Regions from separate parts of the Homo sapiens genome. Here region 2 is linked to region 1. A link means that fine-mapping ties the variant in region 1 to the expression of a gene that starts in the linked region. Tissue or cell type: whole blood. Region 1 holds a variant in brackets; the other region holds the start of a gene. All regions are shown on one strand. Distances are between the middles of the regions.

Evidence for each region. PIP is the estimated chance that this variant, and not a neighbour inherited with it, causes the effect.
Region 2: TST starts here. The variant in region 1 is fine-mapped to the expression of TST in whole blood (TOPMed, PIP above 0.99).

The regions. Positions count from the first base shown.
Region 1 is chr22:36,965,973-36,974,074 of GRCh38, reverse strand. It overlaps LL22NC01-81G9.3 (a long non-coding RNA gene), which reads right to left. Exons shown (of 4, transcript NR_038954.1): 2 at 7,568-7,685; 3 at 6,487-6,907; 4 at 5,903-6,089. Among named protein-coding and RNA genes, the nearest start is that of LL22NC01-81G9.3, 4.8 kb to the right of the region's middle. The variant G/A (reference allele first, on the strand shown) is at 4,190.
Region 2 is chr22:37,015,307-37,023,408 of GRCh38, reverse strand. TST (thiosulfate sulfurtransferase) reads left to right here and starts at 3,962. Exons shown (of 3, transcript NM_003312.6): 1 at 3,962-4,009; 2 at 4,656-5,271. The coding sequence starts at 4,677. It overlaps MPST (mercaptopyruvate sulfurtransferase), which reads right to left and starts at 3,667. Exons shown (of 3, transcript NM_021126.8): 1 at 3,537-3,667. The coding sequence starts at 3,572. RefSeq lists silencers at 3,351-3,670, 3,681-3,800, 3,831-4,220, 4,381-4,440 and enhancers at 3,914-4,415, 4,444-5,419.

The sequences.
Region 1 (8,102 bases):
TAGGTGACATAGCAAGACTTCATCTCAAAAATAAATACATAAATAAATAAAATAAAAATAAAAATATATTATTTTTTATCCTCTTTCCATTCCTTCTTCGGTTTTCGTTGCTGTCTGCCCTAGTCCAGGGTCCAAGTGGCCATTGTGGGGAAGAGCCAAAGTCCTTCCATGACACTTTTTTTTTTTGAGACAGAGTCTTGCTCTGTTGCCAGGCTGGAGTGCAGTGGCACGATCTCGGCTCGCTGCAACCTCCACCTCCCAGGTTCAAGCGATTCTTCTGCCTCAGCCTCCTGAGTACCTGAGATTACAGCCACCTGCCACCACCCCCGGCTAATTTTTTGTAGTCTTAGTAGAGACGGGGGTTCAACATGTTGGCCAGGCTGGTCTCGAACTCCTGACCTCAGGTGATCTACCAGCCTCGGCCTCCCAAAGTGCTGGGATTACAGGCGTGAGCCACCGTGCCCGGCCTTCCATGACACTTTTAAGACTACTGTTAGCATTCAGAGGGTGTAGGTCTGTTGGAGTCTTCAAAGCAGAACAGCTATAAGAGAAACCATCTCGATATACAGGATTGTCCGTGTCAATCCCCTGTCACCACCATTCCCTTTGAAGGTTTCCTCTGGATGGCAGAGACTTCCCAGAAGCCCCTTGTGTGGTTCTAGCTTTGTTCCCCAGTGAGAGGCTCTAGAGAAAGATCTAGAAGACAGGAGAGAAGGAGAGGACACTGTCTTCTGAAGGTGCCAGTAGCCAAGTGTGGGGCAAGTGAGATGCCCAGCCCCTCCCTTGGGAGCTCTTGAAAGCCATCCTTGCCCATTAGTGGCAGCTTCTCCCACCCACTGGCGGCTTCTCTGGCTTTTGCTCTGCATGCTCTTTCCACAGTTGTTTTGGTTTTAAAAGGGGTTTTTGGAGACCAAATATTTGAATATAGGAATCTGGAATTGTTCTTTTCATCTTTTTAGATTTGAAGGCCACAGTGACTTCATTGCCAGTAGAAAGTGAGACACTAGCCGTTCATGACATGCTTTGACAAATCAGTTACCTAAATTAGCATCTGTAATTGCCTGGGGTCAACTGCCTATGGCAAGCAAGGCCTTGGGACATCAAGTAGCTATTGCAATATAAGATTCTTATATTAGATTCTTCTTGTAGAACCGGCGGGATTTTTCTGACCATACTGGAAAAAGTGGAGGAAAAATAAAGAGACAAATTTAGGACTGTAAATTTCCAGCTGAAGGCAGAGATAGACCACCAGAGAATTATTAGATTACTCTGAAAGAACTCCTTATTTCTTATGGTCACAGGGCCAAGATTTCTTTTCTCTATCTCTCTCTCTCAGTCTCTCTCTCTTTTTTTTTGGAGTATAGTGGCGTGATCACAGCTCACTGCAGCCTTTACCTCCCAGGCTCAAACGATCCTTCCATCTCAGCTTCCCAAGTGGCTGGGATCTCCAGGTGCGCACCACCAAACCTGGCTAATCTGAAAAATTTTTTGTAGAGATGAGGGTCTCCCTGTGTTGCCCAGGCTGGTCTTGAGCTCCTAGGCTCAAGTGATCCTCTCACCGTGATCTCCCAAAGTGCTGGGATTACAGGCAGGGCCAGGATTTCTAAAAACCAAACTCCAAGTAAAATAAAATACAAATTTAATTCATGACCTTGCTAGATCTCTTCTGTAACAAGGGATTAATTGGGAAGGAGAGAGACTCTAAGAATTAGAAGTGGAAATTTGGGCAGATTTTGATAAATCTGAATACCTTGAACCCCAGACTTCATCTCCCTAGTCATCAATAGCAGCTCTTTTCCCTACTGGAGATCAATCTTCTTTTGCCTCAAGACTTTAATTAACTCACCTGAGGCTGCTGCCCTGAAGGGACTGTTGATTTTACTCCCACCTTTTATTATTTTCAGAACCATAACATCCTGGCAGACCCTCGGGTAATGACGACCAAAGCTGATCTGGGAGGAGGCATTCAAACAATTGCAAGACCTTTGCCAATTTATAATGTCAGAATCCTGAGGAATACGTGAAGGAATGAATTTCAGGCTGCGAGACCAGGGCAGAAGGAACATAACGTTGAACAAACAGAACTGATGAAGCTGGAAGCGCTGGCTGGAGAGCCTGGCTTCAATCTGTCAGACGGAGCAGCTGGGGGCTGCTCTCATAGCTCACTGGGTGCTGCAACCCCAACCCAGGGCCCGTGGTCCATTAAATGCAGTCAGGATGCAGGCATTTACCTTGCTATATCATAGAGGAGGGGATTCAAGGCTTAGGCAGATAGGAACGTTGAAGTGTATTTATGGTGCGCAACCTGCTCAGCCTTCCCGGGGGATGATACAGAGGATGCTGTCTTCATTAAGCCTTTTTAAAAATACTTTGGTGTGATGAGACACAGTGAGGCCTATTGGGGATGGAGAAACCTAGTTCCAATCGGTCACCCGGGGACAGGGAGCTACACTACGGTGCAGATGTGCAGCTGCACAGAGACAAAAATATTATGTAATGAGCATGCGGAATGCCTGCTCAGAGTGAATTGTTGTTAGAACAAGTTTATAACAAGACATAATTTATAACGATGTGCAAACGCTTGCTGGCTGCTAGATGAAATACACAGTTAGCCTGTAAAATATCTTACCAAAACCAGTTCAACGGGAAATAGAGGCTGAGCACGTTGGCTCACGCCTGTAATCCAGCACTTTGGGAGGCCAAGGTAGGCAGATCGCTTGAACCCAGGAGTTCAAGACCAACCTAGGCAACATAGTGAGACTCTGTCTCTACAACAAAGAAAACCCCCCAAAAAACAAATAAATAGTCAGGCTTGGTGACGTGTACCTGTAGTATCAACTACCCAGGAGGCTGAGATGGGAGGATTGCTCGAGCCCGGGAGGTCAAGGCTGCAGTGAGCCATGATCATGCTTTTGTACTCCAGCCTGGGTGACAGAGCAATACCCTATTTCTTAAACAAACAAACAAACAAACAAACAAAACAAAAGGAAGTAGAAATGCTAGTGAGAAAGAAAAAAGATGAGAATGTTTCTGATGTTTATTTTAACCTGATACCCAATTTAATACTAAGCTTTGGAAACCCACGTGGAAGTTGACTGAAGGCAGAGACAGGCCTGGCATCTTGGAGTGGCATTTGCCTGGGACACAGAACCTTGAGAGGTGAATGCCAGCAGACATGTAGAAAAAGAAAGAGTGTTTTCAGAAAGCAAGAAGTCTCCTTTTAAATGGTAAAATACTAAAGAATAGAATAATTATAGAAAAAGTGGAGAAGTGTATTTAATAATCACTTATAAATGCATCAGGCCTAGACAGTTTAACAGGCAAGCTCTTTTGTTTTTAAGCTCATTTAAGATGTTAAGTTCTTACAAGGCAGATTACTTTTTAAGTAACAGATAATCCTCATGTTATTTAAATAATACCAATGGAAAGATAAAGATGGAAGGAATATCCCCCAATTCGTTCAATGCAGCTATTATATCTTAAAATGTGGGATGAAAACACACAAGGCCCTTTAGAAAGAAAACCCAAGATCAAGAGGATGATGCCTCTTTGTACAACGAAGGTCACCTAGCTGCTAATCAGAAACAGTTGCAGGCTAGAGTTTAAAGCTAGAGAAAAGCCTCAAAGCCAAGAGTGTCGCTTTACCTGAACTTAAACTCCTGTCTCCCAGAAAAAAAAAAAAAAAAAAGAACTCTGCTGATGTTAATAAAAGCGTTAATTTACTCATTGTTGCATGTATTAAGTCTCTTTGAAAAGTTTAATTATTTCAAATGCATGTGATACATTGCTGAGGCTAAATTACATAATTCATGAAAATTGATGATGGCTCAAAAATTAGTCAGTGTACATAAATGATTCAACAGTAAGCTTAGCAGATTTCTACAAAAAAGCATGATATTCATAAACTGTGAAACCTCAGTGGATAATTGCAGCATTAAGAGATCTCTACTGTTCTCTTTTTACGATACCAGAATTTTTGAATATATGGTATTTGACAGCTTTTTAAATCTTGAAATCTAAGTGTAAAACAATTCTTTTTATTTATTTTTCTTTTTCCCTTTTTATTTTTTAGTGACAGGGATTTGCTGTGTTACTCAGGCTGGAGAGCAGTGGTGTGATCACAGCTTACTGTAGCCTTGAACTTCTTCTTTTTTTTTTTTTTTTTTAATTTGAGGCGGAGTCTTGCTCT[G/A]TTGCCCAGGCTGGAGTGCAGTGGTGCAATCTTGGCTCACGGCTAATCTCTGCCTCACCTCCTGGGTTCAAGCAATTCTCCTGCTTCAGCCTCCTGAGTAGCTGGGATTACAGACATGTACCACTATGCCCGGCTAATTTTTGTGTTTTTAGTAGAGACGGGGTTTCACCATGTTGGCCAGGCTGATCTCAAACTCCTGACCTCAGGTGATCCACCCGCCTCGGCCTCCCGAAGTACTGGAATTACAGGTGTGAGCCACTGTGCCTGGCCAGCAAGAGGCTTTTGAAAAGATTTACCAACATCTCAAAGGGACAGAGAAATCATTTTCAATGACAAATTTTCTAAAGAAGATGCTCTAAAATAAGGGAGGTCAGGGCCTAGACTCAATGAGAAGCCATCTGAAGTCAAACCAAGCTGAGGAGAACTTTAAGGGCATTTTGGTTGGAGCTCTCTGTCACCTGCCACTGGTGCCCAACCACAGGAGCCTTCTGGTGTGGTCTTAGTCGGAGGCTCATTTTATTAAAACGCCTCACATGGCCACTTGGAGATGGAGGCAGAAACATTTCCCTGGACATAGACCCTTGAGAGGTGAATGCCTGCTGTCATGAGTAGAATATTTTTTTAGTAGGATCAAGATGACTTTTCAGGAAGCGATGCTAAGTCTCTCGAATGGTGAAGCATTTGGCATTCTCTATGCAATCTCTCTGAAGACAGGTGTGTGCAACACCAGGAATTTGTCAACATAGTTTTGAACTTTCTGGCAATTGTGATTGAATAGGAATAATATGTAAAATAACTATTAAAAATAAGAGACAAAGCTCATAATTTGAAGAAGATAGGCTTGTATGTCTAGAAAGCATGTAAGATTTAAATAAGAATTATTCAACGAACAAGACTTCGAGAAGGAGCTGGGTATAAACTCATTACACAAACATCCGTAGCTTTTCTTTGCACTAATAATAATCATTTGCAATAAGATAGGTTGGGAAGATATTGGCCACAAAAGAGGAAAATGAAGAAAGCAAGCAAGCAAGCAAGAAAAAGGAAGGAAGGAAAAAGAAGGAAAGAGAAAGAAAGAAAGAAAAAAAAAGAAAGAAAGGAAGGAAGGAAGAAGAGGAGTAGGAGGAGGGGAAGAAGGAAGGAAGGAAAAGAAAAGAAAGAAAGAGAGAGAGGTGGGAGGAAGGTGGAAGAGAGAGAGAGAGAAGGTAGGCTGGCACTGAAATCTTAAAATCCTGGAGATGAATCTAATAAGAACCTAGGAAAAAGCTTTTAAAATTTGCTGAAGTAAAATTCCCAAAATAAGTGGAAATCCATAATTATTGGATCAAAAGAGCCAGTATTACAAAGTTGTCAAAACTGTCAGATCTTCCCAAATTAAGAATTAAATTTAGCGCAATTCCAATAAAAATTCTAAGAGGACATTTTTATGACTTGATAAATTGATTCTAACAATAATTTGGAGGAATAATAGCGTAATCGTGTCCAATAAAATGTTGAAAAGGAAGACTAATGAGTGAGGATGCCAAATATCAAAACACTCCATAAGTTATAGCAACTGGAAAAGCATGACGTAGTCATAGGAATACAGAAGTGTTCAGAGGAACAAATAAAAATTGTCTTAGTTAGCTCTCACTACACATTGAACCTAAGACCCCATGATACCAAAAGCATCAGAACTTTCTTCTTGTGCGAAGAGGGAATCATTCTTTCTTTCTTCTTCACTGTTGTCTTTTATTATTATTATTATTATTTTTAAAGCAGACTATGGCCTGTAATCCCAGCTACTCGGGAGGCTGAGGCTGGAGAATTCCTTGAACCTGGAACCGGGGAGGCGGAGGTTGCAGTGAGCTGAGATCGCGCTACTGCACTCCAGCCTGGGTGACAGAACGAGATTCCGTCTCTAAATAAATAAATAAATAAATAAATAAATAAAACTAAGCAGACTATGTCAAGGTCTTCATGCCCCTTCCCAGAAAAGCTTGCCTTGACTTTAACAAGAAAGAATTGTATAATGTCTGCAAGTTATTTGCTCAAAGTTGCCTTCTCAGAATTATGCTGAAAAGCCCTCTGTGCTTGGAATTCCACTTGCCTGCTGTGTATGTATGTATGTATATACTTCACTTAAAAATCAGAGGAAAGTGGCCGAGCACAGTGGCTCACGCCTGTAATCCAAGCACTTTGGGAGGCCAAGGCAGGCGGATCACTTGAGGCCAGGAGTTCAAGACCAGCCTGGCCAACTTGGTGAAACCCTGTCTCTACTGAAAATATAAAAATTAGCTGGGCGTGGTGGCGCACACCTGTAGGCTGGAGATATAGTAGGCATAATCCCAGCTACTCAGGAGGCTGAGGCAGGAGAATCACTTGAACCCGGGAGGTGGAGGTTTCAGTAAGCCAAGATCACGCCACTACACTCCAGCCTGGGTGACAGTGAGGCTGCCTCAAAAAAAAAAAAAAAAATTAGAGAAAAGTGATGGCATCATCATCCCAAGCGGTAAAAGACAATTGTGATTCAGTGTCACGTGGGCCTGGAAACTCCTCCATTTCTCCATTGGGCTGTTGCAGAGGCTCTCTTGCACATGGGCAGATACTGCTGGTGTTGCCATCGTGCAAAGGAGACGTGGTGTAAAGCCAGACTCTAAGAATGTCCAGGAGATTGAAGAATCCCACCTTCAAGCAGAGGTCTGGAAGCAGTGCTGGGATGTCTTGTCTGGATTGTGCCTGGCAATGTAATGAACAGGAAATAAAGAGACACGTTCTTTGATGAATCTCAGGCTCTTGGGGTTGCACAACCATTTCACGGGGATCAAGATGAATCACTTTGTCCTCTGTTCCAGCGAGGGGAGGCCTTCCCAACCTCAGCCAGCCCTAGGGGCACACCAGGAGCAGCAGAGAATGGCTTCCTAGAGCCCAGGCAGCCCCGGGATCCCAGAGAATGATGTTCTGGGCCTGGGAGGCAGATTTGGATCATGCCTGAGAATTCACCAAGCTGAGCCGCCCCCATGTAAGGCCACTGGGAATAATCCCAATAGTTTCCACTTGTCAGCCTCCAGTCAGAGGGAGTCTGCCTCTCATGGTCAAAGTTGCCAGGCCTGCAGACAAAACACTGGGGCAAGGCAGGTCCCCAAAGCCATCGTGGAGCAGGATTGGTCCAGGATGAAGCTTTCACTGCCCATTCATGGGAGGAGAAAACCCTGGAAAATGAAGGCAAGGAAAATGGCCAGCTGCCTCTGTTTGAAAAGGGCCATCCTGCGCGCTGAGATCAGAATTCTTTGATTACTTCGTTTGTATTAAAATGTCCCTTTTTACCAGCCTGGCCAACATGGTGAAACCCTATCTCTACTAAAAATACAAAAATTAGCTGCGCGTGGTGGCACACACCTGTAATCCCAGCTACTCGGGATGCTGAGGCACGAGAATTGCTTGAACCTGGGAGGGGGAGGTTGTGGTGAGCTGAGATCATGCCACTGCACTCCAGCCTGGGCAACAGAGTGAGACTCTGTCTCAAAAAACAAAAAATAAAATAAAGTAAAATAAAATAAAATAAAATAAAATAAAATGTCTTTTTTTTAAAGTAGAAAATGATGTTGATAGTAAATGATATTTTCTTTTTTATTTAAAAATAAAGTTGTATTTTTCTTTCTGTTTTTAAAAATTTTTTACTCATCAATATAATTGAAAACTGTCTAGAAACCACATCTGTAGAGGTAGGGAAACAGAGAAGTAAGTTGTAATCAAGAACAACAAGGTCTCCAATCTGAGCTTTGTAGAACAAACTCCAGCATGGGGAAGAAGGCAGGAACTCAGTTGTCAGAGGCCACACAGGGTGGCCCAGCTCTCAGAAGCAAGGGTGGGCCCAGGGATGAGGACAGAGGTTCAAGGAAGTATAGGCACAACTGTGACCCTGTGAACCCCT
Region 2 (8,102 bases), 49 kb before region 1:
CACCTGTAATCCCAGCTACTCGGGAGGCTGAGGCAGGAGAACTGCTTGAACCCAGGAGGCGGAGGTTGCAGTGAGCCGAGATCGTGCCATTGCAATCCAGCCTGGGGAACAAGAGCAAAACTCTGTCTCAAAAACAAAAAACAAACAAGAAAAAGTGCACTAGCCTGACCCGGCGGTGCCAGGCTTCTCACTAGGCAGTCAGTCTGGCACCAGAATCCGGACTTCTCAGACACACACTCTGTGCAGGCTCCAGGAGTCTGGCGAGGCCAGGTTTTGCCTGTCCAGCCTGGGCTCTCTCTGGCCCTTCTAGCAGCAGCAACAGTGACTTCGCACCTCCCTCCCTCTCCTCTCTATCTTTCCTGCATACCAGAGACAGTGCACCAGCTCGCCAGCCCACTATGCCAGGCCAGCCCACAGCCTTCCTGGGTGTAAACTTCCCAAACACTTTAAGCCCTTTGTGCTGGGAAGCCACCGTTGTGCAGGTGAGAGGAAAGGGCCCCTTCTGCCAGGCAGAGGCTGAGCCCCCACCAGGGCACATGGCTGGGTGTGTGGAGTATGGGCTGCAGATCAGCCCTCACTTATCCCCTGTGTGAGGCCCAACCTTGACACCCACTGCATGCAGTCCTGCCAGCGAAATGAAGGGGGCAGGTAGAGAACAACATCTGTGGACCGAGTGCCTCTGTGGGCCAGGTCACATGCTAGGCACCGCAGCCTTGGGCGGGTATTAGGACGCCTGCTTTATGAATGAGGCCACTGGCAATTAGAAGAATAAGTGCCTTGCCCGTGGTCACAGGAGGCAGCCTCAGGATTTGCAGCCAGAATTTGACCCCTCAGGCTGGACTTCCCCTGCCCCAGGTGCCATGATGACCAGGGCCTAATGAGTTCTAGGGTGACACCCTGTGCCCACCCCCACAGTCTGGCCGCAGCTGGCTTTTAGGAACCTACTTCACCCATGCGGTCAGGCCTTGTGCCGGACACCGAGGCACTCTTGCCTTTGCCAAGCCCTGGGGGGAAACGTCAGGCTGCAGGCAAGAGAGAGTGAAATTGAGGATAGTTTAGAATTCAGTGTTGAGCACAGAGGGCCCCTATGTTTGCCTGGGGTGGCAGCAGAAGAGGTGGGAAGGCTTCCTGGAGTAGGAGGAAGTCCAGACTAATCTGACTTTTCCAGGGGCCCAGGAAGCCTCAGCACGGTCTTTAGGGTAGGGAGGCTGCCAAGGGGTGTTTGGCTAAGGGGTGATCCCCATTATCTGCGTTACAGCACAGCTAGGGGGCGCTGTGCTGGCAGATGCTGCAGGTTCCTTCCTGAGGAACCCTATTGTGGGAACCACAGCAGCCCCTGTGCACCCCCAAACACTGTCCCCTATTCTTGAGGATCCTTGTTTCCCTCACCCAATCATCCATTTACAGTAGAAAGAGCCCTGGTTTAGGAGCCAGAGAGCCCCCCAAATCAATGTAAACCCCACTCCACTGCTTAACTGGTTGTGTGATGTGGGTGTGTAGGGTCTCTGGGTGGTTTCTGTTCCTTATAATGGAGCTTCTCACCTCCACCTCTTAGAGCCAAGATTAAACAATAAATGTAGAGGGGCAACCACCATGCATTACATCTGGCTGGTTTTAATAATCATTAAAAACGGTTTAGGTCGGGCGTGGTGGCTCACACCTGCAATCCCAGCACTTCGGGAGGCCAAGGCGGGCGGATAACGAGGTCAAGAGTTCAAGACCAGCCTGACTAACATGGTGAAACCTCATCTCTACTAAAAATACAAAAATTAGCTGGGCATGGTGGCATGAGCCTGTAGTCCCAGCTACCCGGGAGGCTGAGGCAGGAGAATCGCTTGAACCTGGGAGGCAGAGGTTACAGTGAGCCGAGATCGCGCCACTGCACTCCAGCCTGGGCAACAGAGTGAGACTCCATCTCAAAATAATAATAATAATAATAATATTGCATTATTTCTTCCATTACTCTCATTGGTGGCCCTGGAACTGCCAGCAGCAAATCTAAAATCTTAGAATTTCAGGGCTTGGTGGGACTTCAGAGATCTGAGGTCACCCTGCCCCAGTCTCCCTGCTTGATTGGCACTTCTCACAAAGGTCTGTGGGCCATAAAGGAGGGTGTGAAGGCAGGCTGTGGGTGTCAGGGAGGGGTAGAAACCAGGTGCCTGTGTGATTCAGAAGCCGGGATCACTGTAGGTGAGGGTGCCCTGGGAGTGGAGGACCCCAGGACGTAACCGCCCCAGGCTCATGTCAGAAGGATACACAGCTGCACTGAAGCAAGCGTGAGCCGCAGGCTGGATCCAGGGTACCCCTTGAGGAGCAGAGCTTGGGAGCTCCTCTTGGACCTCCCCAGCCTGGTCCCTCCTGCCCACCCCCTCCCCCAACCACCAGACACTAGGCTTTGAGGATTGCTGTGAGCATTTTAGAACAAAACCTTTTTTTAAAAAGAGGGATGAGGCCAGGGATGGTGGCTCATGCCTGTAATCTCAGCACTTTGGGAGGCTGAGATGGGCAGATCACTTGAGCCCAGGAGTTCAAGACCAGCCTGGACAACATGGTGAAACCCCATCTCTACCAAAAATTTAAAAATTAGCCGGGAATGGTGGCACATGCCTGTGGTCCCACCTACTTGGGAGGCTAAGGTGGGAGGATCGCTTGAGCCTGGGAGGCGGAGGTTGCAGTGAGCTGAGATGGCGCCACTGCACTCCAGTCTGGGCCACAGAACCACAGCCTGTCTCAAAAAACAAAACAAAACAAAAGGTCAGGGTTGGGAAACAGGGAAAGCTTCCAGGCTGGCCTCTGCAAAAGCTAGGGAGGGGCAATGGTGTCCCCCAGTTTGCAAGAGCCCATGGCGAGCTTTTCAGGAATTTTGCCAACTGGTTGTTAAATACAGCTATTATTAAAAATTGAATTACATCAACTTATGATTAAACGGGCTAAGTTCAAAACAGGCAATTTTTTAAAAAGCATGAACCTTCAGGGAAGAGCCAGGTAAACAAAGGCAGCTGGTACCACGTGGGCTTCAGACCAGGGATCAGGCCCGGCCTCAACTCTGGGTGTGTCCTCCAGCAACTCGCTCTGCCGCTCTCTCCTGTCTTAGTAAGTTTCTGGCCTACTCCTCAGGGTTATTGTGGGAATTAAGTCACACCACGGGAGTACCCAGCAAAGTGCCACACCAAGCAGGGCTGGACAATGTTAGTTCCTTTCACTCACTAACAAGTTATTGGCTAGTGTCTCTTCCTGGGGCCTCTGGGTCAGCGGGGTCTCGTCTCCCTGTCCTCCTCTCTCTCCCCCGCCCTCTCTGGTGCCACCAGGTCACCCACTTCCACCCAAGGCTCCCCACCCGCCACTCGCCACGACCCCACCCGGCAGGCCGCCCCAAGCGGACAGTCACCCTTAGTGCCAACGTAGCGGCGCGCCTTCTCTCCTAGACTAAGCCCCCTCTTCCGCCCAGGTCCCGCGCGGGAGCCCCGCGCCGAGCACCCCCAAAGAGCCACTCCCTCCCCCTCCAGAAAGGCAAGCCGCCACGCCGCGGCAGTTACCCGGGTCTCGGACTCCCGGCTTCCTGGCTCCGCCATGGCCCCCGCGGCGCGGCGCCCCCTCCCCGCGCCCGCAGCTGTCCCCTCCTCCCGCCACCAACCTGCAGCGGACCAAAGGGAGGAGACTCCGGCACAGCCCACCGCCGCGGCCACTCGGAGCCGCTGCTGCCCGCGCCTTCCACTGGCCGGGCCGTGGGGGTACGCCCGCTCCGCCCAGCCCAGGCCCGCGCGGCCCCCGCGCCACCCGGCGTCCCCCTCAGACCCCCGCGGGTCCCGGAGGCCCCGCGCGCGAGGTTGGCAGGTGCCGGGCGCGAAGCGGCCGCGCGGGGGAGGCGCGGGATGGCGGCGGGCGGCGCAGGGTCCCCCTCTGGCGGTGGCGCGATGGTGCGCGCCGCCTGGGGAGCTGCGGCCGGGGGTTTGAACCGGCCAACTTCTCCAGCCGGCCGGGGCGAGCGCCAGCGCGGCGTCCGGGGCGAGTGAGTGCGGGGCGGGGGCAGCGGCCGGGCGCCTGGGCCGCCGGTCGGGCCACCTGCTGCCCGGGGAAGGATAGCGTTGCGAGAGTGGGACGGGGTGCCCCGGGAACCCCTGATCCACCTAGGGCAGAGGGCAGCGAGCTACGGGCCGGACTCGGGCACTCTGGAGGCGGGCGAGCTCGGGCTGCCTGGGGAGGCCGCAGGCGATGGCGTGTGCGCGGCTCGCGGAGCTTCCTAGCCGTGCGCCCACCCCCTCTGCCTTGGAAGGAAAGGGGATTCTAAGCCCAAGATGCCATCGCCCCCCATCCCGGGCATGCTTTCATTGCTCTTTCCTGGCGGGATCGAGTACTGTAACTTCTAGGAGCCAGATCCCCGCCCCAGGAAGCGCCCCTACTTGGAGTCCTCGGAAACTCTTGCCCCACCCGCTTCTGCGCTGGGCCCCCGGGCCGGCTGGGAGGGGCGGGGCCGGCTTTCCAGAGGGAATCTGCAAACTTATCCCGCTGCACGCCCCAGCCTCGCTGGCTTGCTGTAAACAAGGAACCCGGGGGAGTGCGGAGGGAGAAAGAGCTTCTCCCAGGCCTCACCCTACTGCACACACCGACTTCCTTCCTCACGCCTGTCTCTCTTTCCTGGTTCCCACCCGTGCCAGGTGACACGCAGAGCTGAAGCCATGGTTCATCAGGTGCTCTACCGGGCGCTGGTCTCCACCAAGTGGCTGGCGGAGTCCATCAGGACTGGCAAGCTGGGGCCCGGCCTGCGGGTGCTGGACGCGTCCTGGTACTCACCAGGCACCCGAGAGGCCCGCAAGGAGTACCTCGAGCGCCACGTACCCGGCGCCTCTTTCTTTGACATAGAAGAGTGCCGGGACACGGCGTCGCCCTACGAGATGATGCTGCCCAGCGAGGCTGGCTTCGCCGAGTATGTGGGCCGCCTGGGCATCAGCAACCACACGCACGTGGTGGTGTATGATGGTGAACACCTGGGCAGCTTCTATGCTCCCCGGGTCTGGTGGATGTTCCGTGTGTTTGGCCACCGCACCGTATCAGTGCTCAATGGTGGCTTCCGGAACTGGCTGAAGGAGGGCCACCCGGTGACATCCGAGCCCTCACGCCCAGAACCGGCCGTCTTCAAAGCCACACTGGACCGCTCCCTGCTCAAGACCTACGAGCAGGTGCTGGAGAACCTTGAATCTAAGAGGTTCCAGCTGGTGGATTCAAGGTCTCAAGGGCGGTTCCTGGGCACCGAGCCGGAGCCGGATGCAGTAGGTAGGTGTCCCAGTGCTGGGTGGTCCCTGGGGAGTATTGCCCCATGGAAGGATAGGGAGTAAGGATGACTGGGACCCTCTCCAGGGTCCGTCCCATGCCTTCAATCCTCCCATGTAGGCCTCAGTCTTTCCATCGATAAAACCAGAAAGTGGAGACAAACCTAAAGGCTTTTTCAGCTTGGATGCACAAGGACCCAAGAATGTGTCCTCATAGCCATGTGCTAAGAAGCCACCTAGCATCTGTGTGAGCAGAAGTCACTGGTGACATGTCCACCACCTCCACTCCCAGGCACCAGCTGCCCCACATGTACTAGGATATACCTAAGGGTGTCATGCCCCTGAGCCAGCGTTTGCATTGCTGTACAGAAACCTCCCACGGACACATCCAGCTTCTCCAGGCCTCTCTCGTCCCGCAGAAACCCTTATAGACATCAACAGTGTCCCTCCCCGCAGGATCCCCCTCTCCCCAAATCTAGCTCTCCTGGGGCCCCTGCCTGCTGTTTGCAAAGGTTCCATAACCTTTCCAGGCAGCTGCAGCCCGTCGGCAGAGTTGTAACAGCAGCTGCCATTTCATGCCAGACACTTGGCACCGCATTATCTCAGCGAACAAAGCTCAATGCCCCTGTTTTGGCAGCGGGGGGTGGGGGGACTGAGATGCCAGGACATAAAGTGGTGGAAGGCAGGATTCGAATCCAATGCTGCCTTGTTTCAAACCAGGGCTATAAACCAGGACGCACCCAATGCTGCCCTACCCCTACTTCCCAGGGCCAGGAGGGAGTCCCCTCTGCTAGTTGCCCCAGGAAGGCGACTCAGAAGTTCCCCTCCTGTGGAAGGGAAGGCCAGGTGGATTGGATACTGCTTGAGGGTTGGGGAGAGCCTCAGGAGAGGAAATGCTGAGTTCTAGAACCTCCTAGCCAGACAGAACCTCGGAGGTCTTCCCTTTTCTAGAGGCAGGACTGCCGTCTCGCTGCCATCACTCCTGCTGAGTGCCCTCCAGTCCCTGCCTGGCCATTTCCAGGAGCAGGGCCCTCTCTTGTCTCTGGGCACCTCCTTGGTGGCTCTTTCCTCAGTCAGAGCTCCTTCTCTACAGAATCTAACTCGTGTGCAACATTTTGCCTGACTTGTTGAAAAACATCTCTTCCTGTCTGTACCTCCTACAGAGAGAATGCTGGGAAAACTGTTCTGCACACTCTTAGAGCTGGAGGGCCTGAACGGTGACCTCACCTGACAGAGGGGAGACTGAGGTGCACAGAGGCAGGGGCCAAGGCCGCATAGCTAGTTAGTGACAGAGCCAGGACAGCAGGGTCTCTGCCCTTTCCAGCGCAGCTTTTTCCAGGCCCCATATTTTTCTTGCCTGCTTGCTCTCTGAAGGTCTGGAGTTGAAGATTCAAGTTCATTTGGCACCTCCCAGAGAATCCTGGCTGGGAACGCCTGCAGCCCTCTCCTGGCCTTGGTTCAAGACGCCTCTTCTCCTTGGGATTTAAGCTGTCATGGGGGAGGATCAGTGGAATTGGTTCTCTTGCTGCTTCCCAGCCTGCCCTGAAGCAACCTAAGAAATAAGTGGAAGGGACAGCTTGGAGGTGCCAGGCCCAATGTCCTCACCCATTTTACAGATGAGGAAACTGAGGCTCAGAGGAGGAGAATGGCCTGCAGTGGGTAATGCCTCCTGAAGGCCCGGGATGCTGAAGTTCCTCCTCTGTAATTGTGTTCACACCTCCTTCAGTTTCCCTCAGGAGCATCAGGGAACATGGATTCTCATTTCAGCTCAGCCACTCCTCCTTGGAGTGACCTCAGTCCAGTTGCTTGGCCTCTCTGGGTTTCCTTATCATAAAATGAGAAGAGTCACGCCAGCCCTACCCACATGAGTATGCATTTGTTTAAATGTAGCAGTGGCGGCCGGGCGTGGTGGCTCACGCCTGTAATCCCAGCACCTTGGGAGACCAAGGTGGGCGGATCATGAGCTCGGGAGTTCGAGACCAGCCTGACCAACATGGTGAAACCCCGTCGCTACTAAAATGAAAAAAAAATTAGCCAGGCGTTGGTGGTACGTGCCTGTAATCCTAGCTACTTGGGAGGCTGAGGCAGGAGAATCGCTTGAACCCGGGAGGTGGAGGTTGCAGTGAGCCAAGATCGCGCCACTGCACTCCAGCCTGGGCAACAGAACAAGACTCTGTCTCAAAAAAAAAAAAAAAAAAAAAAAAAAGTAGCAGTGGCTGGAAAGGGATTTCAAGAAGGGTAAGGAACGATACAAATCCTGGAGGGTGTGGCACTTCCCCCCCAACCCCCTCCTCCAAGAGGCTTTGCTGGCCTCCCATACAAGATATTTTGGGGACACAAAGGCACATGAGGCTCTGCCAAGTTTATGGTTCCCAGCGTGGTGTGGGATCAGGGAGGCACCCTGTAGGTTCAGCGGTCCAGATGTAACACACAGGGGCATGGGGGTGGCAGACCTGGGGGTCAGGCATTGGCCCTGATCATCTCTGGAAGGAATGACCCTAAATGGAGCGAGAAGCAGAGCTTAGACACCTGGCGGCCACTTCCTGCTCACCTTAGGCAAGCGCCTTCCTCTTTGGCTGTAGTTTTGTGCCTCCACAAGCTCTTAGTCCTGGAGTCAGCCAGATCTGAGGTTCCATCCAGGTGTGATACTGATGCTTAGCCTCAGGCTAGTGCCTTCACCGCTAACTGTTGTTCGTGAAAGGAGCGCTGCTCACCTGAGAGGAGGGCTGGAGGAAGTGAGAGAGGCAGAGTAGGAGTTTATCCAGCCCAGTTTCTTTATCGACTTAATTTTCTTTGCCTCCCTTCTTGGAGGGAGTGAGGGTGAAGAAGGGAGGA